Regions from separate parts of the Homo sapiens genome. Here region 2 is linked to region 1. The links come from fine-mapping of genetic effects on gene expression. A gene starts in region 1. The other region holds a variant in brackets. All regions are shown on one strand. Distances are from middle to middle.

What was found.
Region 2: its variant is fine-mapped to the expression of HTR1A in cerebellar hemisphere (GTEx, PIP above 0.99).

Annotation. Positions count from the first base shown.
Region 1 is chr5:63,955,389-63,970,824 of GRCh38, reverse strand. HTR1A (5-hydroxytryptamine receptor 1A) reads left to right here and starts at 8,380. Exons shown (of 1, transcript NM_000524.4): 1 at 8,380-12,951. The coding sequence starts at 9,106. The coding sequence ends at 10,374. RefSeq lists an enhancer at 8,666-9,643 and a silencer at 10,282-10,503.
Region 2 is chr5:63,919,615-63,935,050 of GRCh38, reverse strand. No RefSeq gene overlaps it. Among named protein-coding and RNA genes, the nearest start is that of HTR1A, 35 kb to the left of the region's middle. The variant C/T (reference allele first, on the strand shown) is at 6,449.

The DNA.
Region 1 (15,436 bases):
GGAGAGGGAGAGCATCAGGACAAATAGCTAATGAATGTGGGGTTTAAAACCTAGATGACAGATTGATAGGTGCAGCAAACCACCATGGCACACCTATACCTATGTAACAAACTTACATATTCTGCACATGTATCCCTCAACTTAAAGTAAAAAAAAAAAAAAAAAAATTGACAGGGCGTGCTGGCACACACCTGTAATCCTAGCACTTTGGAAGGCTGAGGCAGGCAGATTGCCTGAGCTCAGGAGTTTGAGAACGGCCTGGGCAACACGGTGAAACCCTGTCTCTACTAAAATACAGAAAATTAGCTGGGCATTGTTGTAGGTGCCTGTAGTCCCACCCACTCTGGAGGCGGAGGCAGGAGAATTGCTTGAACCTGGGAAGTGAAAGTTGCAGTCATCTGAGATTGCGCCACTGCACTCCAGCCTGGGCGACAGAGCAAGACTCGGTCTCAAAAAAAAAAAAAAAAAAAAAATTAGCTGGGCCTGGTGGCACATGCCTGTGGTCCCCAGCTACTTAGGAGGCTGAAGTGGGAGGATTGCTTGAGCCTGGCAGGTGGAGGCTGCAGTGAGCTGTGATCACACCACTGCACTCTAGCCTGGGTGATAGGATGAGATACTCTCTCAGAAAAAAAAAAAAAGAAAGAAAAATAAAACAAAATACGACAGAGAGATTAAGAGACATGGAGGACAGGAGAAGTTTTCTTTTTCTTAGTATATTTACAATTGCATAAGCAGAGAATAGAAGAATGAGGGAAAGGCAATATCTGTTGAATTAATTGCGAATGAGTGAATCAGTATTTATGAAAAGTGTAAATCCTCAGTTTCAACAAGTAAAATGAATCCCGGGAAAACTAAGAAAAAAAAATCCACATCTTGACATATTAAGGTGAAATTTCAGAACAAAATAAATACCAGAAAAGGTATTAAATGCGGCTGGAGTAAAAGGAAGATTTCTTATACATAACTGACAACTGAGAGTTGATTTTTTATCAATGACAACACAAAGTGAATAATATTTATATAATATTTTCCAGTTCTGAGAAGCATATATATAATATATATATATATACACTCACACACACACACAAGCTATCAATCTAAAATTGTGTAGTTAGTTAAATGAGGGGGAAATAAAATGTCAGTCAATAAAAAATAGAACTTATTAATATTTGTAACAGACCCTTATAAAAGAAATTCCAAAGGATATTCTTAAGGCAGAAAGAAAATAATTTCAGAAGAAATAGCTGAGCTACAAGAAGAAATGATAATCAAATAAATTAGTAAACATGTGGGCAAGTAAATGCAAATATTCATACTGAAATAAATAATGAAATAATCATATTTAATTAACGAAGTAAAAGTCAAAATCAAGGTAACTAATTATTTCACAATACCCTAGAAGATGGGGGTGATCTGAGTTAAAGTATTTAAAGGCATTTGTATAGCTTGAAAGTAGTGAAAAGTATAAATAATCTTTATACTTTAATTTGTTTATGTATGTTAAAATTATAAGATAATCCAGAAATAGGGTGTAGAATTTCTATAATAATGCAATAGAGGAAGAAAATGAATTTTAAAACTTATTGGGTAGAATAGAAGGAAAGAGTAAGTATAAGAGAAGCACCAAATACACAGTATGTTCATGTTTTTTAACATAAAATAACATGGTTAAAAGTATTTATTGAACTCCTGGACTCAAGGGATCTGCCCACCTTGGCTTCCCAAAGTGCTAGGATTACAGGTGTGAGTCACCGTGCCTGGCCTAAAAATAATTTCTAATACAAGAATAGTCATAATAAAATTAAAACTAAACTTACCAGTTAAAAACTAAGATTTTCAGATTTGAAAAGAAAGTAACTATCATATTTGTATTTGTATAAGAAATTAACCTAAAACTTGAAGATACTGAAAAGACAAAATTTAAAATATAGAAAAATATATAGTAGGCAAAAAATAACAAAAAATAATTAGTATAGACAAAGTAGACTTTAAGACAACAGATGTTATTAGGGATAAAGAGGATAACTATTTAAAGCAGCAGGGTGATAGACTAGTTCTAACATTGTATGTACCTACTATCATGTCCTCAAAGTATGTTAAACAAATATAGACAGAACTACAGGGAGAAGTTGTTAATATCCATAATAGATAATGGACTTCAGTAAGTTAAGACAAACAAAACAACAAACAACAAAAGAACCAATTTAAAAATAAGCAAAATATGTGATCAAAATATATGATCATATATTAGAATATATGATAGTCCACTGTGAAGAAACATGAAAAAACAGTCAACCCTGATGAAGCAATGGGAATGTAAACCATTTTTTAATGGTTGTATTAGTTTCCAAGGGCTAGGAACACAAGGAAGCACCACAAACCAGATGGCTTAAATCAACAGGAATGCATTGTTTTACATTTCTGGAAGTTGTAAATCTGACACGAAAGTGTTACAGCCCAAACTGACAACTCTAAGGGAGAATCCGCCGTATGCACCTGTCCTAGGTTCTGGTGGTTGCCAACAGTCCCTGGTCTTCGTTGGCTTGTGGTAGCATAACTCTAATCTTTGCCTCTGTTTTCACATGGCATTCCTTCTTTTGTGTCTGTGTGTCTCTGTGTCTTCACATGGTATTTCTTCTCTATGTTCAAATTTCCATCATTTTATAAGGACACCAACCATTGGATTAGAACACCCACTGATCCAGTATGACTTCATCTTAACTTGGCTACATCTGCCAAGACCCTATTTCTAAATAAGGTCATATTCACAGACAACGTGAATCCTTTATCCTCCTGGGGGACACAATTCAACCCACAGCAGTGGTTATGAAATTTTATATAACCAGTTTGGAGAAGAATTAGGTTTTATCTAGTCAAGCAGAATTTGGTCATACCTTAGGACTCGATATTCCACTTGGTATATTTAGATCCTTGCTACTCTAAATATAGTCTATAAAGCAGCAATATCAGTGTCATCTGGGAGCTTAGTAGAGATGCAGGGTCTTGGGTTGCACCCCAGACTTACTATGTGGAAATCTGCATTTCAAACAAGATCCCCATGTAATTTATTTGAAACATGCTAATCTAGTCTACTCTAAGATACATGGATGCAAAAAGACATACACGAGAATGTGCATAGAAGTGTTATTTATAAGAGCAGAATCTAACCAGAGAATGGATATGTAACTGTGGCACTATTCATACAATTTAAATCCACAGAACAGTGACAATAAATGATGTAGAATTATATGAAGTAGCTTGTATCAATACAGACAAATTTCACAAGGATAATGTTGAGCAAAAAAAAAAACGTTGCAAAAGACTGTATATAGAATGATACCATTTCTCAGTTGCTTAGGGAAACATACATATCGTATAAGAATACAAAGACATTCATGGGAATAATAAACACTAAATTCAAGAGTAAACAGGAACTTCAATTGAATCAATGCTATTTTTAAAAGCTTTTCTTAAGCACATAGGCATTTATTATATTATTCTTTATATTTTTAATAAATCCTATTTAATATATAATAAAATGTAAAAAAATTAAGGAAATAATTCAAGGCTAGTACGTTGCAGAGTAGTTATTTGAATATAGAACTGTGGCCCTGAGTGGCTATATTCAACCAACACATTACTGCTTCAATACACCAAATGACACAGTTTTAGACCAGTATTTTATAATCACAATTATTGCATTTGTATAATAGCATGTTGTATAGAAACATTAAAATACTGTATAATATTAAGCACTGATTTAAGTTTTACACAAAAATGTCACTTGCCAAAGAAAATAAAAATGTGGGCATTTCCACCTGTTAAGTTAAACAGAATAACTGCATTTTGCTTCAATAATTGTTAGATTGAATTTAATTTCCAATTATCTTTAGATTAATAGGAAATTTTGAACTAACATTCCAAGCATTTTTCTCACCCCGACTATGCTCTTACTCTTTCAAAAGTGAACAATAAAAATATTGACAGAAGGACAGCATTGTAAAAGTACATTTATTAATGCTTGTCACTATAAATCTGATAATTTCTCACAATAAAAATACTCTTTTTGGGTTTTTACTGAACTTTAAATATTTTATTAGGACTTACAAATTTCAAATACTTATTTTATGCTTTTGAACAAATGCATGAACTTCCAGGGAAAGAGTAGGGTCGTTTTCAATACTGATCATTGAACTTTCATTGGCATGTTCTTTTATTCCCTTCACTAACTTCTGATTATGTAAAGAAGTCTCAGAATGCAGCAATCACATCTTGTTTTCTACTTGTCTTTTACTCAGAATTTCCCAGAGAACTGGAAGCTTACCAAATACTTTAAAGAATGGGGAGAATGTAACATCCACATGCAAATCTCTTTCCTAATATATCCTCCCATGAAAGAGACTTTTTTTTCAGTCTTCACTCTCTAAGGCCATCCAGCTCTCTTTTTCCATACTTTAGAGCGATTATCAGTAGAGAGAGAATTAATATTTTTACTTTGCATCTGTATTATTACTATTATTGTTTAATCATTATTGTGTGTTTATTATGAGCCAGTGAAATGTGTTAAATGGTTTAATCTTCACAAGTCTATTATTACACTCGTTTTATTACTGAGGAAATAAGAGGGTTAATTAATTTGTTCAAGTCACACACATAGTGAACACATGTTATATTTTTCACTCTTTATGTACTGTGCTTTTAGTATGTGTACTCACTGCACTAAGTCAACCATACAATTCTCAAAAGCAGAGATTGAAGCTTCCAATGTTTGTGTTTTATCATTGAAAACCCAGTGCAATTCCAGGCCTGCAAGTGCCTGACAGGGATAAAAAGCAGTGAAGAAATGATATTATTAGAGAAGGTAAATGGTGAGGATTAGATAAGAAAAAAGCAAAACACAACAAAAAAGTCAAGAAAACAATACAAAAACAAACCGTGTTGTTTTAAAGAAAAATTATTTTCTTGGCATTTTGGTTGCATTTCTTGAATCTTTTCAGTGATAATCAGAAGACCACATTTCCCAAATTATGTAAGGAAAATTTCCTATAAGTTGTTTCTCCTAGTCATTTCCAATCAAAATTCATAGTTCTGAACAAAACACAATTGCCCTACTGCTACAGTATTTGGGGATTGGGAAGAATTAAATTTAGAATAATATTTTTAACCTAACAAAATAATTGATTCTAATTTCAATTACATGAAAAAAAAGTAAAAACTTTTTTTTCAGTAGGAGCTTTTAGAAACAACTTTTATAATCTCATAAGCAAATATTCAACTCTTTACTGTATAGATTCTTTCTTCAGTAATAAAAACAATTCAGCCGTAGTTTGGGGATAATGGACAAACATACCAATTACTGAGAAACTCCAACCATCAGCCTTCAGTAATGATAGGGCTTCAAGGTTCACAGCAAAACTTCAGCTTAAATCTTTTTAGTTTGTGTCCCTGGTCAAGGAATTACATTGAAATGCTGGGTGTGTATCAAATTTCCTGTGAAAATGTTAAAAATATTTATCTTTTTAAAACTATTTTAGAGAAATTTCACATGATGGATGATATATCATACCCTAAATTCATAACCTGACAAGTTTATGCTGGCATCTAGTAAATTCAAAAAGGAATAAAGGCAGAATGACTAGAATTTTTCTTTTCAAATGATATCATCAATAATATCCGTTATAAAGCTTGCTTTTCTTTAGGTTAACTTTAGAGGCCTTGAAGAATAAGAGCTCATCTCTTTATGCAGGAGCTTTGGTTTGCAGCATTTACTTAAGAAATATTTGGTATTCTGTATCTTTAAGAGTTAAACATAGAAGAATTGGCTAAGTGAAAATGAAGAAACGCAATATCATTCTGCATATATCATTTATTATATATCACAGTATTATTAGTTTTAAAAAGTTAAACATAAATATCTATTAGTCACTTGCAGACTATGGAACCATAGTCAGTGCTGCATACTTTCATACTTCTGTTTCCCTCCTAGTATTCATAAGTGTGCCTTTAAAAACTTTTAAATTGTAAGAAATAAAATGTTTGATATATTATGTATATTATTACTAAGAAAAAACTTGAATTACTTTGGATTTTTAAAAACTTTGATAAATTCTACATCATAGCATATTGAAGCAGAATAACAAATGCTATACCTCAGGAATATTAATTCCAGATTTTACAGCATTTTAACTTTCTTGATGAGAAAAAATAAATTTGTCAGTTATTAAACTATTTGGGATCCAACAGATGAAAGCAGAATTCTAACTAACATATTTATTGATTTATTTGTGATTTACATATTTACATGTGTTGTTTGACACAATTCTTAATTATGTTCTTGATATGCATATATTTGCTTCTTAAATTTTAAGTTTCCTTTATTTTACTTTGTTTATAGTCTCAACTATAATTTCAAAGTTTAATTTTAGATAATTCAGCTTTTAAATATTTTCCCATTATAATTTTTGGACCTCTAACTCTATTTTAACTGTAAATATAGTTCTGTATTTGTGAAGAGACTTTAGAAGTGGAAATAGATACCTTCACAAATCTTAAAAAGACTTCTTCAGAGTCTGTAAACAGCATTACCATGTATACTTATCTCTTTCTTTTCAATGCCATGAATCATCACAAATGGCAGGCTCATTGTGGTGGCATGCTGAAATGATTGAGTGGGAACTGTGCCCAGCACTGAACTATAAAAAAAAAAAACAAACAAAACCTTATCCAAACACACTGTCCTGTATTGTAATGCATTGGCCCAACTGGATTCTTTTTGATGCTTTGGTGATTGCTCTTTTGTTTGGGCTTGGAGAATTCAGAGCTATGAAATTCAGAGCTCAGATTTGAACACAATATTAAGATTATTGCAATCTGTAGTGAATCTGTTCATGTTATCCAGTGTCAACTGCTTTTGAGATTGCATTCCTTTCACCTCAGGCATGCAATCAGGATGTATAAGTGAAATGTTGTGTGGTATGTTTACTGTAGTTGCTTAGAAGTCCCATTCTTTACCAATGCTCAAATGTGATTAAATTTGTTTTTCTTGTTAAAGGAAACAGCTTAGAACAAACCCTTGTAAGTATCTTTATTTTCAGTGATTTAACATTTCCAAATGTTAAATCATTTGGAAAATGCAATACTATTCGTTTCTCCAACAAAAGGTAAATTTATGTCAGTTCCAAAGTTCAGGTTATGACAGCACAAAACCAACACAGGTGAAAGTGTTAGCCTAGCTTTATTAAAATGGCATTCCCAGTTAGAACTTGTGAATGACAGATACTTCAGGCTTTCGAAGGAAGCTAAAACATATAATAGGCCTGATATATAAGGTTCAGAGCAAAAGAGGGCACTAAAATAAATTTTTAAAGAAAATAGGAAGGAGACAAAACTCAATACTACCTTGTCTTTTAATAACTGTCTTCCTCTTTCTAAAAGTTGTTGTATTTCCTCAATACTTGCTTCATTTCTGCATAAGGGTTTCCAGATGGCACTCTAAAACATTTGCCAGAAGGTGGCGACATAAAACCTCATTGCTTAGAACTGTCCCAGGTGCTGAACCCAGTTTCTGAGATTAAGAGAGGCTAGCCGGCTAGCGAACCGGGATTCCACCAAGTTTCCCCCAGAGGTTTGCAGGCTCTGGTAAGAAGTGCAAAAGGCCATGTGAAATGCCAGGCTTCACTTAGAACACATATGCAAAATATTTCCATCCCTGAATTTACTAGCCACAAAGCTATGGGAAGTGGCAGTGTCACTGAAATTACAAGTGTAGTAGTGATGGAAAAGTGTGTGTGTGTTTAGAATATATATCACACTGAGTTTTGTTCTTCATTTCGAGATGCAGTTGTTTACCTCTCCTTGTCCTTTGACACGTCCTTTATAATTTCGTTCTCTCCCGGTTCCCCAACGTTAAAAAAAAAGTCACAGGCAATATTCTCCCTGAGGGAGTAAGGCTGGACTGTTAGATGATAACGGAGGTACCGTTTTGTTGTTGTTGTCGTCGTTGTTCGTTTGTTTTTGGAGACGGAGTCTCGCTCTGTCGCCCAGGCTGGAGTGCAATGGCGCGAGAACGGAGGTAGCTTTTTAAAAAGGAAGACACACTCGGTCTTCTTCCATCAATTAGCAATAATTGGGAGACTGACCCAGGACTGTTCACCTTCCCATTCAGGCTCCCTATGCTTCCTTTTCTCATCTCCTATTGCCACTCTGGGATGCTGACACGATTTAAGAATTTGGCAGATAATATGAGGCAAGGAGTAGTTGGAATTCCCTCCCCCAAGTTTTTCCAACCCCAGTTTTGCTGGGTTGGAGGCGGAGTTTATTTGTTACAACCTTGGTCTGACCGGCAGGGATCTGGTGTGTGTAAGTGAGTTCTGAGTCTCTGTTGACAAAAAGAGACTCGAATGCAAAGACGCTGAGCTAGAGGGAGAGGAGGGCGGGGACCCAGAGGAAAGAGGCACTCCTCGGGGTTGGGGAAGTATTAGGAGGGGAGGGTTAGAGTGGGAGGGAAGGAGCCTGGCTTTCGAAGCGACTCACAGAGGGATAAATAAAGGGAAGTGAGGAGGAAGAGGGAGACTGAAAGGGAAGGCAGGTGGGGAGAAGGGGGACGAAAGAGGCAGAAGAGAGAGAAGAGAGGAGGAGAGAGGGGGAGAGAGGGAAGGAAGGAAATAGGGAGAGGAGGGTCACAGAGTGACCGTGGAGGATGGGGCTTCTCGGTTCTAGATATTTCTGGGATTGGAGACTGTTTGCTAGTGGGGAGACTCCAGCTCCGGCAGCCAGTTCGGGAGCGGCAAAGTAAAATGGACAGCGACAGACAGACGTTCCAGCCACCTCTCCGCCGCCGGGAGATCCTGGAGCTGCTTTCAGGCCAACTCCAGTTTCCCAGCTGGAGCTTCTGAACGCGCTGGACTGCGAGAGCCCAGGGAGCGCCTGAAAGCTGCTCCTCGGAGATACCCTTCGCCGAAGCAGTAAGAACTTCCTGCTTGGGTCTCTGCATTCCCTTCCTCCGAAACTTCCCAGGAGAAGGGCGGAAGACCCCAGGGGAAGGGGCGAGGCGAATCTTCGCGCTGCTTTTTCTTCCCTCCCCCTTCCCGCGCCGGGCGCGCAGGCATGGATGTGCTCAGCCCTGGTCAGGGCAACAACACCACATCACCACCGGCTCCCTTTGAGACCGGCGGCAACACTACTGGTATCTCCGACGTGACCGTCAGCTACCAAGTGATCACCTCTCTGCTGCTGGGCACGCTCATCTTCTGCGCGGTGCTGGGCAATGCGTGCGTGGTGGCTGCCATCGCCTTGGAGCGCTCCCTGCAGAACGTGGCCAATTATCTTATTGGCTCTTTGGCGGTCACCGACCTCATGGTGTCGGTGTTGGTGCTGCCCATGGCCGCGCTGTATCAGGTGCTCAACAAGTGGACACTGGGCCAGGTAACCTGCGACCTGTTCATCGCCCTCGACGTGCTGTGCTGCACCTCATCCATCTTGCACCTGTGCGCCATCGCGCTGGACAGGTACTGGGCCATCACGGACCCCATCGACTACGTGAACAAGAGGACGCCCCGGCGCGCCGCTGCGCTCATCTCGCTCACTTGGCTTATTGGCTTCCTCATCTCTATCCCGCCCATGCTGGGCTGGCGCACCCCGGAAGACCGCTCGGACCCCGACGCATGCACCATTAGCAAGGATCATGGCTACACTATCTATTCCACCTTTGGAGCTTTCTACATCCCGCTGCTGCTCATGCTGGTTCTCTATGGGCGCATATTCCGAGCTGCGCGCTTCCGCATCCGCAAGACGGTCAAAAAGGTGGAGAAGACCGGAGCGGACACCCGCCATGGAGCATCTCCCGCCCCGCAGCCCAAGAAGAGTGTGAATGGAGAGTCGGGGAGCAGGAACTGGAGGCTGGGCGTGGAGAGCAAGGCTGGGGGTGCTCTGTGCGCCAATGGCGCGGTGAGGCAAGGTGACGATGGCGCCGCCCTGGAGGTGATCGAGGTGCACCGAGTGGGCAACTCCAAAGAGCACTTGCCTCTGCCCAGCGAGGCTGGTCCTACCCCTTGTGCCCCCGCCTCTTTCGAGAGGAAAAATGAGCGCAACGCCGAGGCGAAGCGCAAGATGGCCCTGGCCCGAGAGAGGAAGACAGTGAAGACGCTGGGCATCATCATGGGCACCTTCATCCTCTGCTGGCTGCCCTTCTTCATCGTGGCTCTTGTTCTGCCCTTCTGCGAGAGCAGCTGCCACATGCCCACCCTGTTGGGCGCCATAATCAATTGGCTGGGCTACTCCAACTCTCTGCTTAACCCCGTCATTTACGCATACTTCAACAAGGACTTTCAAAACGCGTTTAAGAAGATCATTAAGTGTAAGTTCTGCCGCCAGTGATGACGGAGGAGTAGCCGGCCAGTCGAGGCTACAGGATCCGTCCCATTCACTATGCTTCCCCCAACCCTAGGGAATCAACACTTAAGATAATTCGCCACTTCTCCTCTTTCTCTCTGCTCCGCTCACGGCTTGCAGACCTGGTCCCCTCCCCACTTCCTGCTCCACGGCAGGGCCCTTTGTGCAAAGGAGACCCAGCGGAGGAGCGTTGAGAGCCCAGGAAATTCAGAGAGTTTGTGAGAAGCGACATTGGCTCAGACTTCGCCTGTATCATCAGTTTTGATCCCAGTAATTGCCTCTTCTCTCTTCTATCTCCTAAATCTTTGCGGTGGATGTTTAATGCTTAGTTCAAGGCAGAAAATCCAAAAAATAAATAAACTGTACACACAGCCGCCGCGCCCACTAAGGGGCTCCACCCCATCACCCAACTTCTAGAACTTGGACTTGAGGTTTGGGAATTTGCTCCATCTCTCCCGCCCTGTGGCCCTTGAAATATTCACCTTTTTCTCCCCATTTTTATCTTTTCTTTTTTTCATTGCTTCCCTCTCTGCCCTCGCCCATCCTTATGCACGAATCTGCTGGTCCGGAGAGGCGGAAGAGGCTGCTTTTCCCCGTGCCAGCGGTGCCCCCGGGATTCCCCGTCTTCTCGCAGACTTGAGATTAACTCTCTCGTGCAGTGCACAACCCCTATTTCCTTTGTTTCCTTGGACTCAAAGCAAGTGGCTAGAAGGTATCTTTTAGAGTGGACTTGTAAGTACAAGGCCGGGCCAGTGGGGGAGAGCAAGGAGGAGGAGGGTGTGCAGACCACTTTGTTTATGCTTGCCTTGGTGTCAGCACTCACCAAAGAAACTGACAATCATACAGTGGAGAGAGCGGACGCTGTTTGTACAGGTAGCTGGCGAGTGTGTACGACCTGACATCGCCACTTACTTACTGCGGGAGGCGCCAGCCGGCCGCTGTTTGCGCTCTGGGGAAGCTGAGAGGCCTGGAATCCGCGCGCCTCCCCAGCCATCTGTGCTCTCGCAGCGCGCTAGGCGCTCCCGGCTGCTGACTTACAGGATCTGGGTTCCTCCGCCTACGCTCTGGGGCGCCCTGAAGCGCGGGTAGACACCTGAGGTTTTTGCCTTAGCCAGTGGCGCAAGATGCCGCGGAACTCTTGGGATTGGAGAGACCAAGAAGGCTTTAAAGGGGCGACACGCAGGGGCGGCAAAGAGGAAAGGTTCCCCAGGGCGCGCGTGCCCAAGGCTCCAGCTGGCTCCCCCAGTAAAACCTGAAAGAGCAATTTTATCCTTACGATGTAGAATTTTTCCTCCTAATTCACGCTCTTGTCCTTTTTGGATCGGGGAATAATTCTGTTTAGCGTGTCCCAACACTCGCTGCATTTGCTTTACAGGACATCCAAGACACAAAGTTAGCAGAACTTTGTTTTCCAAATAGGAATTCTGGGCTTTCAATGGAATGCCCAGATAGTCCATAGGTTAGCACTATCTGTGACAACAGGCAGATAGTTTAAATAGCAGGGTCCTAAAGGACTAGTTAGGAGGTGGTCTTCCTGGGGAGGCTGAGTCTTTTATGGGATTAATTGCTCCCTAGCGTGACCATTCTGCTGTACCAAGGGTCTGCGGAAACCACCTTTTTGCCCTTTGAATTGTGCAGCATTCCAGGCTTTCTCTCCTTCAGTTATTCTTGAAGCCTTGCCACTCCTGCCGAGAAACTGGTTAAAATCTTTGCTGCCCCAGAAAGGGAAGTTATTTAGGTACTCTGGATGTAAATTTCCAACTACATGATGGAGATCTAGAGGTTTGTCATTGTTTGATCTAGCCTCCAATTTTCTTATGAATAATGGTCTTGTTTTCCAGAAAATTCACAAAGTAATTGATCCCTACTCTTTTCTCTCTTCAGCTGTACCTTTCGAATGTTTTCATTTGCTGTTTTGAGAACCGTATTACATTTACAGATTGCAAAAATTGCCAGTGAAAAGTTCATTTGTTTATAATTAAGAAAGTGAAAGGACAGCTCTGTCAGTTGAAGCCATTTTATTGTTTGTCAGACTGAACAAAGCTTTCCTTTGGTGTCTGCTTCTGTATTCTAAACTGGAAGTAGACATCATATCCCAGCTAAACAGGGAAAGTTTTAGAACTTTGGGAATAGTTTGTCTATGCATGTATAATGCTGAGAAGGGTCTGCAGTGAAGAAGATAAGATAGACTTCTCCAGCACAACTATTACTCATTTGATAATTCAGTTTCATTTTTGCTCACATAATCTAAGTAAAGCCATATCAGAAACCAAGTTTTTCTGTATGTTACACTAAATTTTAAGAACAAAGTCTATATTTAAAATAATCCAAACCCCAAATTTGCTCATCCAAATTATGTCTTGGCCAGCAAGTTTTACATTAGAAGTTTTGAGACTTCCATTTATTTGTGTCTTTTACAGAATTGTGTGACAATGACTTTTGGACATTTGTTCTTTCGGCTTTGGAATATTTACACAAGAATGGAGAAGGAACATCCAACTGGAGCATAATTGTCAAGGCAATAGAGAATTTAGAGAAATAAAATAGCTGCATATCTCAAAAGAGTGCCTGATGCTTTCTTTTTACTTTAAAGTATTTATACTAAGGTAAAGTGCTGATGCATCAAAATTGCCTTCACTTTTCCTCGTGACAATAAAAGACTTTAATAATGGTAATGCTAGAATTAACTGATGTCAGTAACACATGCATCTTTATTTCACTCAAAATCTCTACCTACTTGTATTTATTTGTATAATTTTAAAATTAAAGTTAAAAAATACAGTGATTAAAAGAAGATCCTTCTTTACAGGTCAGGGATCTGACTTAGGGAAATAAGTGTAGTTTTCAACAGTAAAACTCATTCTAGATAGGTGATTTCTTTCAAAAAAAATCTGCCTCTGGAAAAAGAAAGTCACATATCATTTAGGCATAAAACCATGCATTTTCTATGACTGGCACCTGCAGGTAACATATAGGTTTCTTTCTAACATGGACAGAATTGAAGATATATGGAGGAAAACTACAGTCTCTGGGGAAAGCAACAGGGGTCCAATCTGCCTTTTTAAAACAGTGGGTGGTGCTGAGATCCCTCCTCTGTCTACCCTGCAACATTCAGCTGGAGGAAAATAACCTCCCCTGTTTCAAAAGAAACAGTTGATTGTTTTGGGGTTCATCAATTAAAAGTAGAGGGGCATTTTATTTTCTGGCTGGGTCTTCTTCCATAGTAGGGTTTTGTATATATGACGTATTACTATGTTAAAATTAATTATTATGCTCTATTATTTCCCTACTTAAGTAGTCAAAAACACCTCTTGTTTCTGTTGTTATGTTTGTTCATTCTGCTGCTTTCTGGTGTCAGAATGATGGCTGCAGGGCAAAGTGAGCATGGGTAAACCTCCAGTAAACAAAGGTCATGGCCATTATTGCCAGAGCAGAGAGCACTCTGAAGCTCATGAAGCTTGGTTCAGGCGATGTATGTACATACACATATTATCCCAAGAGTGAAAAATAAAATCAGGGTGCTAGTGGTGGCTCTTACCTGTAACCCAACACTTTTTGAGGCCTAGGGGAAGCAGGAGGATCGCCAGGAGTTCAAGGTTACAGTGAGCTATGATCACGCCACTACACTCCAGCTTGGGTGACAGAGCAAGACTCTATCTCCAAAAAAGAAAAAAAGAGTAAAATTAGAGGAATTGATAGAATAAGAACTATCTGAAGTTTGTCATTTTCAACATGTTACCTAAATGTGTTCCTGATGTTGAGTAAAATGCTGAATTGGACACATTTTTCAGTTGAATTTTGGCTATTACTGTTCTCGACCCTTGCTCCTTCCTCTGGCATCTCTTCCTCTAGGGACAATGGCTTTCTGTTTTCTACAGGCCTTCCTGTGGCCTCTATCAACACCTCAACTAAGTGAAGGAATTGTTAGTTACTAGTCACTTCCAGTGTGACTAAGAAGCCCTACTAACCCATTTTCAGTGATCATGTGTCAGCTACTGCTTGATAATATTGAAATATAAAACTATAAATTAATATAAGATGCTGTTGTTACCTTAAAGTAGTTTTCAACCAATTTGAATATATAAAAATAAACTGATAAGGCCAAGTAACTACTCATGACAGGGTCAAAGTGTCATATAAACAGGATGAATCACAGGAGTTTGGCTCTATAAGAATTCAGAAGACAAAGATCACTGTGGGCTCATAGTGGGAAGGGAAGAGTGGGTAGAGAACACTGTATATTGCTGTATATTGTATGTAGGATTGAGCTCTGGGCCGACGGGAGGTAATATGAAAAGGCAGACATTCCTTATGAGGTGACAGGAAACACCCTGATCCCTTCTTCCTGGCAAGTGAGGGCCTAGTATGAAATTTCTATCTGATTGCTGGATGTTGATTAATTGCCTGGGTTGATTATGCAAATGTTGATCCTTGAGAAAGATGCAGACTCAAAACCTCCCATGTGTTGTATTAACCCGAAAGGGTCTTGGAAGAGAGAGGAAAAGATGGGTCTAAAGCCAAAGGAATGGCTAGATGAGAGGAAGAAAGTTTTGAGCAGAGTAAGGAGGAGAGCATCAGAATGAGGAGAGAATCATTAACCATTAAAGAGTTGCAACAGGGTGGCCAGGGGTAGGTACAAGGCAAAAAATTCAAACTTATATAATGTTTATAATTTTGCCACCTGGTTTTTACACATAATGTGCCACTTAAATTTGAAGTAGCAGATCTGGTTAGAAATACCAATTAGAACATTTTAGCTAAAGCAGAAGGTTCACAGAGTAGTGTTAAGTACAGAAAAAGGTGCTAGAGATTGTATATGGAGGTACTTATGCCAGGTTAAAAAGCTGAAACTGTGGTTTTAGCCAGTGGAGACCACTAATAACGAAAGCAGATGTGTTCTCTTTGGAGGTGATTTCAATGAGGCAGGTGTAGAGCAATAAAGGCCTGAATATGGGAAGCTGGCAGAAGGAATGGAAAACAAGTAAGATGATGAAAAATGCATCAAAGAAGGAACTGGCAGGACTTGGTGTCTGGATGTGAAGAGAGA
Region 2 (15,436 bases), 36 kb after region 1:
CTGGAGTAGCTGGGACTACAGGCGCGCACCACCATGCCTGGCTAATTTTTGTATTTTTAGTAGAGACAGGAGTTCACCATATTGGTCAGGCTGGCCTTGAACTCCTGACCTCATGATCCGCACGCCTCAGCCTCCCAAAGTGCTGGGATTACAGGCGTTAATTTTTTTTTAATAAGTGTTTGTTGAGGTCTGTGTATAAAAAGCCTGCAATATGGTACAAAATTCCCCCAAATTTGTGGCCTCCATGGGTTCTACATACTCTTGCCAGGTCACAATCTGCCTCCAACGATTTATTAACTATTCTAGCTACTTCTTCATATAGGTGTTCAGCTGCATCTGCTCTGCGTAATAAAATATTTATGTTCTCTCCTTCCCTTACATGCGTTTGTCTCTCCTTAGATTTTAGGCTAGTTGACTGCCTTATGACTTCAGCTTTTTTATGGATTTAAGAAAGGACGTATGATTATAGCTTACCTTACTTTTTTGTTGCTGTTGTGAGTGTGAGAGCGATGCTCTTTGTGGCTCTCTGTATCCTCATGTGGAATGGGAAGCTTCCCTTCCAGGATAATCTTGCTATAATGGAGCCAGTTCTCTAAGTTGTGCTCCCAACCTGGTTCACTCTGGCCTCAGAGTCAGGTTAGAGAGGCTGCCTCAGAGTCACAGCATAGCAGGAGAGCAGGGTAGTCAGTCCCCCCCAGCTGATTTTGGTTTGAGTGATGGGCATGGGCTCCTGAAGTTGGAAGCCATACTTTCTTTAGTGGTGTAGAGAAAATCTAGGATTTAAAAATGAGTGTAAAATTCTAAATGGGCTTCCCTGCCCAAGGCATGGTGGTTAGTGGCTGAGTAAGGCTTAGTGGACATGAAAGAAAAACAATGTTACTGGCGGACGCCAGTGTTTTCTTCTCATCTTAGGCAGGCTTAGTGTACATGGCTTACTTTCCATGCCATTTGGTAAATGGATAATGAAGCAGGAGGGTTATGGAAGATGGTTAATATTAATAAATCCAAAATTGACTAGAAACTGGGTTCAGGGTCTCAAAATACTCCCCTGACAGTTAAAAAACATGAGATTAATCCCTTTTAGAACTAGCTGTTTATATGTGTGTGTATGTGTGAGTGTGAGTGTGTGTGAGTATGTGTGTATCTCTATTGTAAAAATTTGAAATACCAGAAAGCATAAGGAAAGGGTACATTTCACTCATAATACTACCACCCAGAGATAACAGGTCTTAACATTTTAATATCTTTTTCTCCTATGTAATGCTTTAGATACTTGGGATCATATGTTCATAGTTCGTGACATGATTTTTTTCACCTTCTGAGCATTTTTTAATATCCTTAAATATTTTCAAGATAATTCTTTTATATGCCTATACTATAATTTATGTAGCTAAGTTGCCTTAAATTTATTTTACTACTACAAATATCATTACAATAAACATCTTTCATCAAACTCTTTGTGCAAATTTATGATTATGTCTCTAGATAAATTCCTAGAAAGTAGATTTATGAGGCCAGATGGTTTGCTCAGTTTTAGACTTTTGATGCTTATTGCTAAATAATCTTTCAGAAAGATCATGTGATTTACTTTTCCATTGAGATTACACAAAGTTTCTGTTTCTGAAAGGAAAGTTTCTCTACCTAATTCTTCACCATCATAAAGGAGGCTAGAGGAAGAAGTAACAGAGAGAAATACTTTTTATGAGAAAAAGAAGATTGAGGGACAGTTTTATGGGTTTTGAGTCTATCAGATAATTCCTAGTTGAAAACACAGCTGACAGCAGCTTTATGAGTAAAATGATAGATAAGATTTGAGAGTCTGCATTATTTTAAACATTCACTTAAAAATAAAACTAAACTAAGCATTTTTGGTCCTCTTAAAAGTTATTTGAGTTCCTTAAGATTTCAAACATTTTCTCACTTTCTAATGTGACTTGGGAATTTTCTTTTTCCTCTTTACCATTTGTCAGTGTCCTTTACCTTCCTTGGCTCCTGGCTAAAGTGCTTACACCTCCTGAAGTTATTTCTGTTTTCCCTAAATCTGGCAGTTGTTCAGTCATTTTTAGGATTGTGTATGGAAACTATCATTTGTACTTTTGGTTTTTAGCATGAGGCATGGTGTTTAATCATTTTATGTACTTAGCTATGTCTAAATACCCTTCAAATACAGGGATAGAGTCTTGTGCTTTTCCTGTTTCTCCAGGGGTAAGGGCAGTGGTTTGCACCATTGTAGTCTGTTGATCACTTTTTGTTGATGATGGCCAGACTGAATGCCATAAGAGCTGGGACAATACATTTTTCCTCATTATTCTATCTCCAGTGACATTTGAGCTGCTTGAGACAGCTGGAGCTCAAAAATACTTTTTGAATTAATACACGAACAAATAAATTTGTTACACATTTTGTATATGAGGGTCATCTTCTGAGAAATTATGTGCTTCATTTTCCTTTATAGCAACCTCATTGGGAAGGAAGGAAATGGGATTTTTCCTCTCTCAGAGGGTGTCTAGGCTGAGGTTTTCTTACTCATAGATGTTTTCCACTTTGATGATATTGGCAGGCTGACATGTAACCTTTTAAAAGAAAAAGCCATTAAAAAGTCTTGTGTGCCTAGTGTGTGTGTGTGTGTGTGTGTGTGTGTGTGTGTATTTGCGTGCCCATTTAAGGCAATTGAAGCAATGAGATCTAATTTTCTCAAAAGAGAGAAGAAGGAGCCAATCCAAGTTTACAGTGTTGAAAGGAGAATAAATGTGTAACCTTGGTTTTATCCACAAAGAGTGGGAAGAGGAAAGGGTTGTAAGTCTCTTGGAAGGTAAAGGTCTGAACTCACTTAGACGCTGCAACTCTGAGGGTCAGGAGCCTGATGAGATGCCTGTGAGGACAGAGCTATGGCCTTAGGGTCAGGAAAAGCCTCTCCATTGCCAGACTTTGCCCAAAAATGAGTGAAGCTGCTAGGGAGCTGCCCATCAACAAATAGTGCTTGTTGGCTTAGACCACAGATGGCACAACAGCTTGGACAGATGGTGAGAGACAAGTGCTCCACAGTAGCTTGGTATGGCCTCAAAGAGCAAATGGCAGTGGTGGCAGCCACAGACTGAGGCTCTTCCCTGCTCAAGAACTGGAAAGCTGGAAGGTCAGTTTTTATTAATCTGTCAATCTATCTATCTCAGTGATTCTAAGGAGTGTGCAGAGCACAAACTGACTAATATCAGTGTTCTTGCTAATATTAGTGGGAAGGGACTTGAGCTACTTCTAATTAAATTTGAAGAAAATTAAAGGATTGTAATATAACCTGGACCTTGTATGTTACAGAGCAATCTAAGCCTCATGTAATTATGATTTTGTTTTCTGCAGTTATATCCATCAGGACTTCCCAGGGTTAAGAGGTTCTTACACAGCTCATAAGGTATTCTCATCTAATAAGCCATCTGCTGGCAAGTGGAACATTCCAGCTTCCAGTCAAAATTTCAGTCTGGGAATGCCAAACTTTCTGGAATAATTCAGAAACCTTAAATTATTGTTGATGACCTTAGTTTCCCTTTTCTCTGTATGGAGCAGTATTGAGTGAATGCATGCTAGGCTATGTCACCATTTTCATTGCAAGGTATAATTTTCATGAGAAATGTGTGTCGTGGGAGTGTTTTAGGAAGTATTCTTCCAAGCTTTACATTTAACATAAAAAAAGCTTGACGTCTGTCTTTTGACTTAGACGAGGTGTTTAGCTTAAGATTAAATTACCTTTTGAAACGTTTACTTGTTGAATATGTGCAAATTACATTTAAGATGTGAAAATAGCCATATGTGAAGAGTTCTTGCTAGCACTTTGCCATCAAGCTTCTCTTTCCTTTGTCTTTGTATTCTCTTATATCGTCGTTATATTCTCTCTCCCACAATTAGGAAATGAGATTCTCTGTGCATTGTCAATTATAAAGGAGTTGAAACTTGAGTCTATAATGAAGATCAGGGTACAGCTGGATTAAATACACCCAGCCTGGGCAACATGGTGAAATCCTGTCTCTAGAAAAAATATGAAAATTAGCCAGATGTGGTGGTCCTGTGCCTGTAGTCCCAGCTACTAGAGAGGCTGAGGTTGGGAGGATTGCTTGAGCCCAGAAGGTTGCGGCAGCAGTGAGCTATGATCATGCCACTTGCAGTCCAGCTTGGGCAACAGAAAAAGACCCTGTCTCAAAAAAAAAAAAAAAGCTTCTCTCTTTCTCTTCCATAAGCATAGGGTTGGGGGACACGTTGCTGGATAGCCACACATCTCCACTATCTCCACATAATGCTCTGTCATTGTAGGAGAAAAATAAAAATGCTGCCTTTGGAAATGCCATTAATCAGGCAAAATTTTATGAAATCAGCAAATATTTTAAAAACATAAGTGAAAAGTTCTATTTGTTGGATAGTATAAAGGTATTTTTTTTCCCTTGAGAGGATGAAACCAAGAATGATTATGAGCTCTTCTCATGGAGAGACCTGCCTCTACACAGCACCAGTTAGCTGAGTGCCTCAGATCCCACAATAATTGCATTCACGTGAGTTCCAAGTACTTCATGGAAGGTCCAGAAATGCCATTGTTTTGCAAGGTCATTGCACTCGTTATTCTCCACCCTCTGCCTCATTTTCCTTTCTTCTCTGTTGTGGGCTATGCCAGCAGGCTCCCTTGCCTTGACTTCTACTTAGGTTCAGCCAGTGGGAGTTTTCCACAGCAGATGAGAAAGCCAGCTGTGGGATATGATGAGGTTTCTCTTCAGATAATCTGATTAATCTTTTATTCTTTAATTAATAGTACCCCCCCAACTTTTCCTTTTTCTCCTTTTTTCCTTTTTGACTTTGTTAGATGCTCAGGCACACTACAATACCAGGCATTATCAGTAACAGCTCACATTCCTTTCCTTATTTGGAAAGAGGACTAACTTTCTAGCTCATAACAGACACCCCTTCCCCTTCCTCTCCACTTTCTTTTACATGCCCACCTTATCTAAAAAAAAATCAAATGTTTAGCCAAGCGGATTAGTTTAGATTGTACGACCCGACCCCAGCCAATGGGGAAAGGGTACAGGGGCAGGACTTGCATCAGGAATAAAGGCTCTCGTGCCCTTTGTTCAGGTGTGCTCTCATGGTGACTGGCCAAGGAGACACCACTCTGCGCAGAAGTAAAATTGCTTTGCTAAGAATCCTTTTTTTCGAGTGTTCAATTTCTTTAGGCTTTTGAGGGTTATTTCTAACACAGAGGAGAAAGAGGGCCTAGTGTTTCTTGGTCTCCTCTACTTCGCTTTGACTTCTGTGTTGCAATTGCAGAAATGGCTTTTTCCTTTTCAGATTACAACTCCGGTCAATTTTTTTTTTTCTTTTTTTGAGACATCGTCTTGCTCTGTTGCCCCGGCTGGAGTGTAGTGGCACAATCTCGGCTTACCCCAGCCTCCGCCTCCCAGGTTCAATCGATTCTCCTGCCTCAGCCTCCTGAGTAGCTGGGACTACAGGTGTGCACCACCATGCCTGGCTTAATTTTTATTTTTTTTTGTATTTTTAATAGAGATGGGGTTTCACTATGTTGGCCAGGCTGGTCTTGAACTCCTAACTTCGTAATCTGCCCACCTCAGCCTCCCAAAGTGCTGGGATTACAAGCATGAGCCACTGTGCCCGGCCTCTCCAATCAATTCTGACATGCCTTTGGTTACACTGCTTTGCTCCCCTTGTCTCTTTTAGGCCTGAAGGTGGAAACTGTTTCTTGCTGGTGTGGTCCCTGGCTGCTTCTGCATCCCTTGTTAGTTTTCTTAATTCTTGCCTCACCTCTGTAAACTAATAGTCTCTCTATGAATTTAACTTCAAAATCCCAGCATGTCTTTTTTAGTGCTAAAAAAATGGATACATTAGTGCTAAAGCACTAAGGTTTTTCTCCAAATACCAGGATGATGGGTTGAGGGCATAGACTTTTGGAACTATTCTAAGCCTAGAGGTCTTTACAGATTCCTTCTTGGATATAAATGGTAATTTTATAAAATATTTTTAGTATCGATTGGAGTCCCCTTTCAAAGAGAAAGTCTTAGGCTATTGAGCCTGTTTATTATGAGCTTAAAGAGAGTGAACTTAGTGAAAAGGATGTGGATTACAAAAACAGACTGCACAAACTGGCACTCTTCCTCTGGTTCATTATGAAAGTAGTACTTGCCCAGTGAGTTTAGGCCTAATTATTTGTACTGGGTCAAATTAGGATCTAGACTTAGGCCTGCGAGAAAGGCCAAAAAAATAATAGTGGCCCATTTTAGGAGCTATTGATGAGCAGGGCTTCTGTCTGTGTCTGTAGAAGGTCAAATGTTGGATAGCTGATTGAACACCAGGCTAATTCCAAGTGCTTTCTAGTGATTTGCAAAGCAATCCATGCCCTTACCATCTGGCCTCAGAGCTTTGTGAACTATGATACATGACAGGTTTGGCACCAAACAGC[C/T]GGGAGATGGAGGAATAGTAGAGGTTGGCACTTCAGTCTATGGCGTTGCTTTTCTCTTAATTTCTGGATTAATTCCAAATAAAAAAATGAGAACTTTGTTTGTTTTGTATTAATGCTTCAGGAAGTCTTGTCTTTCTTCTTAATGAGAAGGATGGGAAAGGGAAGAGGTTAGGAATTAAAGACCATGTCATTTCACACACCTGGGGTGGGCAGGTGGGCAGAGAGTGGTGGAGGGGCCCATTTAAGGACTTTACTCTGGTAACCCTTGAAAAGAACATTAGTTATATCTAGGAACACTTTAGATAAATAGGAACTTTAAATAAAATCCAGATATGTATCCGTTGAGAAACTGTGATTTTTTATTTCTTTACTTGAAAATAATACTTTGAATTTACTAGTACTCAGTGTTTATTACAAGTTTATGGAGTATTACCTGAGAATATACAGTCCAAGTACTCTTCCAGATCCTCTAAAATATCTTCAATGGGTTGTCAGACAAGAGGGAGCTGCTGCCTTATACTGCATCATTTTAGCGTTTTTCTTTCTCGGGTGCATTCATTCAACTGGATTTTTGTTTTTGATTTTGTTTTTGCATTGTGTTTTTGTTGACCTTCATTGAGAGACATTGGTAGAAACAATCCTGAATGTTCTCATTTTTGTATTTACTACTGAGATATTGTTGAGAATGCTGTTATTTACATTTCACACAATCTTCTATATGCAGACTAATGGGAAGAATGTTTCTCAGGCCTTAATTTGAGGAATACTTGTGTGTGTTTGAGCAACTATGTTGTTGTTTTTTTAATCTATGGACACTGTGGGTCATGTAAGTGATGATTTTTCTTCTTGTCATTTTGGATAATAGAAAGGTCAGAGCCTAGTTCATGATGTGTCTCTGAGCAATGATGTTTCTATTTTAACTTTACTTCGTGACTTTATTTCTTTTCTTGATTTTATTTTTCTGTCCTCTTGAATTACTGTATTGAAAAATTTTTCCTTATATTCTATTACATATATTTCTAAGAGCTGCCTCAAATGTATCTTTGAACACAGTAAGGGTATAAACAAAATAATAAATAAGATAGCAAAAACAAATTTGTAATGCTTACTGTAAGAATCATTTTTATGTCTATACAACCTTAAAAATAAAATAAAATAAAATAAAACCCCCCAAATTAAAAAAAAAGTGATGGCCAAAATATAAAATATTAAAATTATTTATTATTTCCCATAATTAGATAACAAAAAAAATTGTTATATGCAATAAAATTGCCTGTAACTAAGTTAATTTTAACTGATTTATGTGATTTGATTTGGACTATATAAAGCAGAATCTTCTAAATATCTGGCATTGTATACTAATTGAAACAACATCATTTAGGGGCATTGGATTAGTTGGAAGGAGAAGTGTGGCTTCAGAAAGAAAATTATTGGGGCTAGTGCAAAATGTGGGTTGACTAGAATTTTTACTAAAAATCTTCATTTTGGAAACAGTTAATATGTTAACATAGTTATTAAAATATTAACCAATTTATGTATACAATTAGACTTTTCACATAGTCATTTAACACAGAAATGTGTTTCATTACTCTTAATTGAGTATTTTGAATCACCAGAAGGTAAGGTACTTGGAAACTTTAGACTTTCTTAATTGGAATTAAAATTTCCAACAGGCAGACTTTTAAGGTCTTAATTGTTTGATCCTCAAAATTGTAAGATGAGGCAAACCATGGATAATTAACTGACAGATGGCTAAATGGCTTTATTATCATACAGAATTTATGAGTTAAACATTCAATTGGGAATTATATTTAGTAGGATAATTAAAGATAAAAACTTTAATTTGTTTAAATAAATCATTTATATTTAGTAGGACAATTAAAGATAAAAAATCAAAGTTTTTTTATCTTTAATTGTCCTACTAAATATAAATGATTCATTTAATCATGCAATTTCTTTGTTTCACAACTTTTTGTGAAAGATTAAAGTTTTTATCTTTTAAATTTTAACAGGGTCCCACAAAAGGCACACCCACAAGGCTAAAGAAAGAGTAAGACTTCAAGGAAAGAAAATGAACTTCAACTCCCTCTGAATAATAAAGCAACATTAACATACGTTGGTGTTTTTACATCCCACATGCATAAAGAAAAGTTAGCAGTGGTTTTTTCACTTGGTTTTCTCTCTCTGGACCATTCACATTATTTGTTCTCACAAACATCTGCTCTACTATGGGGTAGGAAACATGACTAGGATACCAAAAATAATAACACATTCATCCTGTCTACATCCAAAAGGGTCGAGTGGACCAAATAAACAATTAGACAAGAGAGCCAAACCACAAAGACATGAAATTCACATGGCATGGCAATGTAGAGCGTGTGTTCTAGCCTGCATTACAATAAAATTCTGTACATCTTTTTTTATTTATTTTGCTTAGGATTGGAAAAGCTTTAATCATGATTTCCCACCTAAGCTGTAGTTCCAAACTACAGAGAACATTTTGATTTCCAAAAAATTCATCTAGTTAAAAAAAAAATTAAGAAAAGCAGAATCTAGAATTAGGAAACAGGAATCTTTAAAACATAATAACAAAGAAACCTGCCAAGTGATTTGCTGCTATGGCCTTACCTACCCTTGTGTTTTCCTCCAGTGATGAGGGGTTGGATGGGGTAGGGCTCAGGGCCTGCAGCATAAATGGCAGTTTGACAAAGAGATCTTGTACCTGACCCTTGGTGTCCCAGACACCAGACATTCCAGATCTGAAAACATCTGGAAGATAATACTAATGAAATGGGGAAGTAAGGAATACACTTACAAATTTGGGCCACATCAGTGGATTTTAACACTGGACATGCTTGACAATTATATGTGTAGCTGCTTTTACCTTACTATTATTATTTTTTAATATCTTAATGACTGCCTGGTATTATCCAATTCTGACATTTCTCTGTATGCTTGTGGTAGAGCAGGACAGGAAGTCTTTGTATTTGCTCTTAGGATTGAAGGCTTTATTACTTGGTCTGGCCTTCTCTCTGTGGGTTTCAGATAAACTCTTGACTCACTGAGAGTTTGGAAAACTACACAGAACACATCACCTGTATAGAGGATCTTGAACTCCTTCACAGATTCCCTTTCAAAATCACCACTGGCCCAGAATTCTTATGAGAAAAAAAAAAGTTTGCTCATTAGCATTGTAACCACTGATATTTTCTTATTCTTGACCAATTTAGATAAATTGATACAAGGTTTATTAGTGCTGGTGGATTAATTTGCTTTATTGTCAAGAAGATGAAAAATGAAATGGGCCCTGTCTCAGACACTGCCTATGGATGATTTATGCTGTCAGCAATTGATTGATCATCTTCCCTTTGGAAACTTCCACCTTTGAGGGAAACATGGATATATCTAAATGATAAAATTAGGGCCAAACCCTTGAAAAAAGGAAGTAGAAATGATCTGAAACTTGCCTTGCTGTGAAATTAGCAAATGAGCACTTGAGTATTACATTGAAGATCAGGGTTCTTACTTGCCAAAAGGTAGCCTCAGGTAAGATACATAATGTTTGGCTTCAATTGTCCATTTGTGAAAGGGGACAATACTACCCACATGTATTAGTCCATTTTCATGCTGCTGATAAAGACATACCCGAGACTGGGAAGAAAAAGAGGTTTAATTGGACTTACACTTCCACATGGCTGGGGAAGCCTCAGAATCATGGCAGGAGGTGAAAGGCACTTCTTACATGGTGGCCACAAGAGAAAATGTGAAAGAAGCAAAAGCAGGAACCCCTGATAAGCCCATCAGATTCATGAGACTTACTTACAATCATGAGAATAGCATGGCAAAGACTGGCCACCATGATTCAATTACCTTTACCTGGGTCCCTCCCGGATTAGGTGAGAATTCTTAGAGCTATAAGTCAAGTTGAGATTTGGATGGGGACACAGCCAAACCGTATCACCACATTTTTATTATTTCTTTCCTGAGATGCTGAGAATTTCGTGACAAATAAAACTAACATAATATTTATTGAATGTCTACTCTCTAGGCCTCAAATGGAACACTAGTGAGAATATAAGAAATAATATTTACAAATCTCTGGGACTTAGTTTTGTCATCTATAAAATGGGAAAATTAGATTCCACAACTAATTCTGTCAAGCTCTAAATTTGGTGGCAATAGCCACTTATTAAGCATTTACTAGACGAAAGCACCATATGAGGAACTTTATATACATCATCTCATGTAATCTTCACAACCACCCTGGGAAGAGTGTCCTATTTTTTACCCTCATTTTACATCTGAGAAAACCAGGACTTAGGGATATATTTGTCCTTGGGAACAATTTAAAACAACAAGTCTCGGATTAGTGACATTTGAGATTTATGTGTGGAAAGGAAATAAAAAATCAACAACCAGTTACTTCCCAAGGACACAGAACTAGAATATGAACACAGTCCCTTGGACTCCAGCCAATGCCCCATACTTCCTCCTAAGGGTGTTTGCTCAGCTGAGTTGTTACACTGGCTTTATGGAATGCATTTGTTCTGTTCCCAGACAGCTGTCCACCACTCTTCCCTTTTCAGTTCTTGTGAAGCAGCACCATTACCTGTATCCAGTGATGGAGGGATTTTATTTTGTTTTGTTTTTTTGTTTTGAGACAGAGTATCGCTCTGTTTCCCGGGCTGGAGTGCAGTAGCCTGGGATCAGGCTCACTGTACAGTGATCAGGGCTCACTGTAGCCTCAATATCCTGGGTGCAAGTTATCCTCCTACCTCAGCCTCCCTAGTAAGTGGGGACTACAGGCATGCACCACCATGTCCAGCTAATTTTTAAATTTTTTTGTAGTGATAGGGTCTCACTATATTGCCCAGGCTGGTCTCAGATTCTTGGGCTCAGGCAATCCTCCTGCGTTGACCTCCCAAAGTGCTGGGATTACAGGTGTAAGCTACTGCACCCGGCATGGAGGGGTTTTGAGTTACTGCTTGCAAAATGAATAGAAACAAAGTTTGTCTACTTCAGCACTATCACTATTTTGGTCTGGATAATTCTCTTCGTGCGGGCTGCCATGGGCATTATAGCATGTTTTAAACCATCCTGGCCTCTACTCACAAGATGCCAGTAGCAACTCTCCAGTTGTGGCAACTAAAAATGTCTCTAGAAATTATGAAATGTCTTCGAGGGGCAAAATTATCCTTGGCTGAGAACCACTAAGCTAGATTTTGACAGTGGGTTGATAATAAGCCTTTTTTTTTTGGTATCATGTGAAGCACTTTGGACACTTAATAATACTGACAAAGCCAGCTGGCCAATGAATTCGTGGTTGCAGGAACCTCTTGTTTTCATATTGTTAAATTGATGATTGCATTACTTGGAACATACATACAATAGGAAATTAGGTAGATGTACTGTCAGCTTTCCAGGTTCTTTGTGGTGGGTTCTGTAGATTAGCCTATGAGTTATTTCATGGAGAAGCGTGTAGATCAGTGGTAAGAGCACAGGCCTGGAGTTAGGTGACTTTACTCCCACACACAACATTGTCGTTTCTCAACAAAGCATTGCCATTACTCAATGACACATTTAGACTATTTGGGCCTCAGTTTCATTATTTGCCAGATGAGGAAATTGGGTCAGATAATCTCCAAGTCCCTTTCTGCTTTAATAACTAATGATTTTAAGGTCCAAATACTGAATAAATCATATGGCAAATTATTTCTTTCTGAGAACATTGTAGTTTGTGACAGTGTAGCTGCTTATTCAATTACAATATGGCAATAAATGTCATACCTTTCCCAGTTAATTCCTGGACTTTTGATTTCCTTTCCATACGTAAATCTCAAGTATCACTAATCAGAGCCTGGTTGTTTTAAATGCAGCCTTAAGGAGGTCTGACAAATAAATTAAAGGAATATTCCAATTTGGCTACAGCTGGCCTAACAGAATGGAGAAATCCTGCTGAAAACCAGACTTGTGTTTGGGATTCACAAATTTTATCCCAAAAAACCCGATTTTTATTTTTAAAAAAACCCAATATATTTGCTTTTCCTTCCAGTATTCAAGTAAGAATTTTCTGGTTGGTTTTATTTCCTCCACCACAAAGATTTAAAGAAGAGGGCAGCAAGAGCAGGGTGACACTACACGAATTCTGTCACATGGCCTCAGAGGTCTCCTAGTTGGAGATTCCGTTAAAAATAATTTTCTTAAAGACAGAGGTACATTGTGGCAACAAGACTGTAATGCCTCCTGAAGTTATGCAGTGTGGCGGTCCTCTTAGTAGCCAGTATTTCTGTACAGTGTGGGTTTCTGGTGACAGTGGTGGGGTGCTTTAAGTTCTGGGACCAGCAAATATGCTCCTTTTCAATTCAGGAAGAAAGACCACTACAGGGAATGCTGTTGGTTCCCTGTTCCACTACAGGGAAAGCTTTGCCACAGGCCTTGTAGTTGCTCTTTAAAGGCATTTTAAACTAAAAAATGCCACAAACTCAACTGGCCAAGTGCTTTCATCTAAATTATTTCTTTTTTGTGTGCCTTAACTTAATAAATGGGACCATTATTTATCTAGTTTCTGAGCCAGAAAACTGGGCGAATTCCTCGATTTTTCTCTTTTCCTTTCTTTACACGAAACACAATAACAAGGTCCTTTCAATTTTTCCTGCTCATTTGTCTCAAACCAGCTCACCTCTATCCATCTCCACTGTTAATACTTAGTTCAGGCCACCATTACCACTTGTGTGGGCCCCTTTTATTGCCTCCTAATAGGCTTCCTAGCCACAGTTCTTCCCCTTTCCAGTCTAGACTCTGTACTTAAGGCACAGTGATCTTTCCCAAATTCAAAGATTAATTATCTTGATATTTTCATACTGGCAATCCCTCAGAGGTTTTACATTGCCTGAAGGCTTTCTGTAATGGTTTTCAGGTCTATCATAATTTGGCCCCCCTTTCCCCTCTAACATCACCTCTTACCACTTCCACCTTCTACTCTGTGTTCTGGCTCTACTGAAATTTCTGTTCCTCCATAACATTGTGTTCCCTCTCTTCTCCAGACCGTTCTCCACATTGTTCCCCACACCTCAGACACTGTAAAGAAAACTTACCAGCATGTAGTCAGGAATGTAGGAATATTTAGTTATTGGAAAAACTGCAATTTACAAAACATTTCTTAACAGGGTGTTTATCATTTAGGAATTTTGGTCAGAAGCATAGAGACCCTATGGTTAATTTCCAAAATTTGCAACTCAGAGTCTTTTCTTACTTTGTGTTTTGTTACTTTTACCTTTTCTTCTGTCTAATCTAGGCATGTGAAAACAAAGAAGTGCCTTTGTAAAGGTGGTGTGTGTGTGTGATAATCAGGTTAAGGGGAGATTCTGAAATAGGTCTGATCCAAGTGTCCACATCTTATACCATCTATGGACAAGGCAAACTTTTATGCTTATACTGCAGGGAAGAGGATTGGAAAGTTGTGAAGTATATGAAAATTAAAGACTAGAATAAAGCTAGGAAAAGAGGAAAGCAAAGCAGGTTAGTGGTGAAATTGGAACATCATTGTGGCCAACAGAATGTGGATTTCTCAGAACAGTTTAGATCCTCTCCATGGAGATTTCTTTGTCAGTGGGGTGAAAATTTATTTGTATTCTGTAAATTAATGTGGTATGCCAGAGAGTAGAAGAGATATATGATCTGGAAGTAGTGACTTTTCATCAAAGAGATCAATAGCAGCACAGCAGCACCAAGGTTGCATTGCCACTGACTTTCAGTTGCTGAAGGACTGAGAGCTGGGCTTTAGTGAAAAGAGGATATGCCCCTCCCATAAGTCAGGCTGATTTGGTGCTTCATGCCCATAGGCAATGCGGAAGGAAATTAAAATATGCTCAGAGCTTGAGTTCTGAGATGGATGGTGAGGGTGGCAGAATAAAAAGCAGAGGAAGCAATTCTAATACGACCATCCCTTTCTTTACTTGTGAGATAATTCTGATGTCAGAAATGACTTTGGAATGAAAGACCCAGGCCTTTTCACTAAAATTGAAGAGGAAATTATGCTTTAATATAGCCTGAAGCTCCAGCCAGAAGCCCTCATGGTAGAATGGGAAATAACCATTGCTGGACTACCCCAAATTCCCAACTGGCAAACAGATTCAATACCATAGTCTAGAAAATAATTTATGAACAAGTAAATAATATCTGCATCATTATTTGGTTGAGAAATTTTGAAGAATACCTGCAGGAACCCCACAGTATCCAACGTACCCGAACCCCGGCCCCATGTTGGTATTCCGGAGAGAGTAACACCAAGGTCATTCACAGCCTGGCGGCCAAATTTTTCCAGGCCAGATTTATAAGGCCTCTTGCATCAGCCCTGCAGAGTGCAGCAGGAAGGCTCATTTCCCTGTTCACTGCCCTGCCTTTTTCACTGTGAGTGTGGTACTAATTTGTGCCAGTTCTTAATCATCAAAATACCAGCAATGGCCTGGGCTTCCTCTTTATCTTCATGCACCTGCCTATGTCCTCACTCTATCCCTTCAGATATTTTCAGTGTCCTCTTTGGAAGTCTTACCTTGTCTCTAAGTAGGAAAATAAATGTCCCTTACCTTAAGCATTCCTAGGTAATCTTATCTTTTTTCCCCACTCTCAGAGTTGGCCGCTTCCCACAAACTGCTGTCATCATCCTGCTTCAAGCTTGCTGCATTTCAAAAGGGGGAGGGTGGGTGGCAGACACAGGGGAGATGGTCTTCAATTCTCTTCTAAATCGAATTGGGTCAGATGGAGCCCAATGTCTTTTTTTTTCTCTGAGTGACTTCTCCCTTAGAGATTAGTAAATATTAGTTAAACTCATTACAGATAAGTTTGTGAGAAATAGAAATTTCTCTTGAGAAAGCTTTGGGTTTGCCAATTTTTTTTCCTCCAGATTTCTTTGTCTGCACCATGATTACTGCAAATCAGAAAAGCAGCAGCACCAGCTCAATGTCATAGGGACTATACTGGCAATATTAG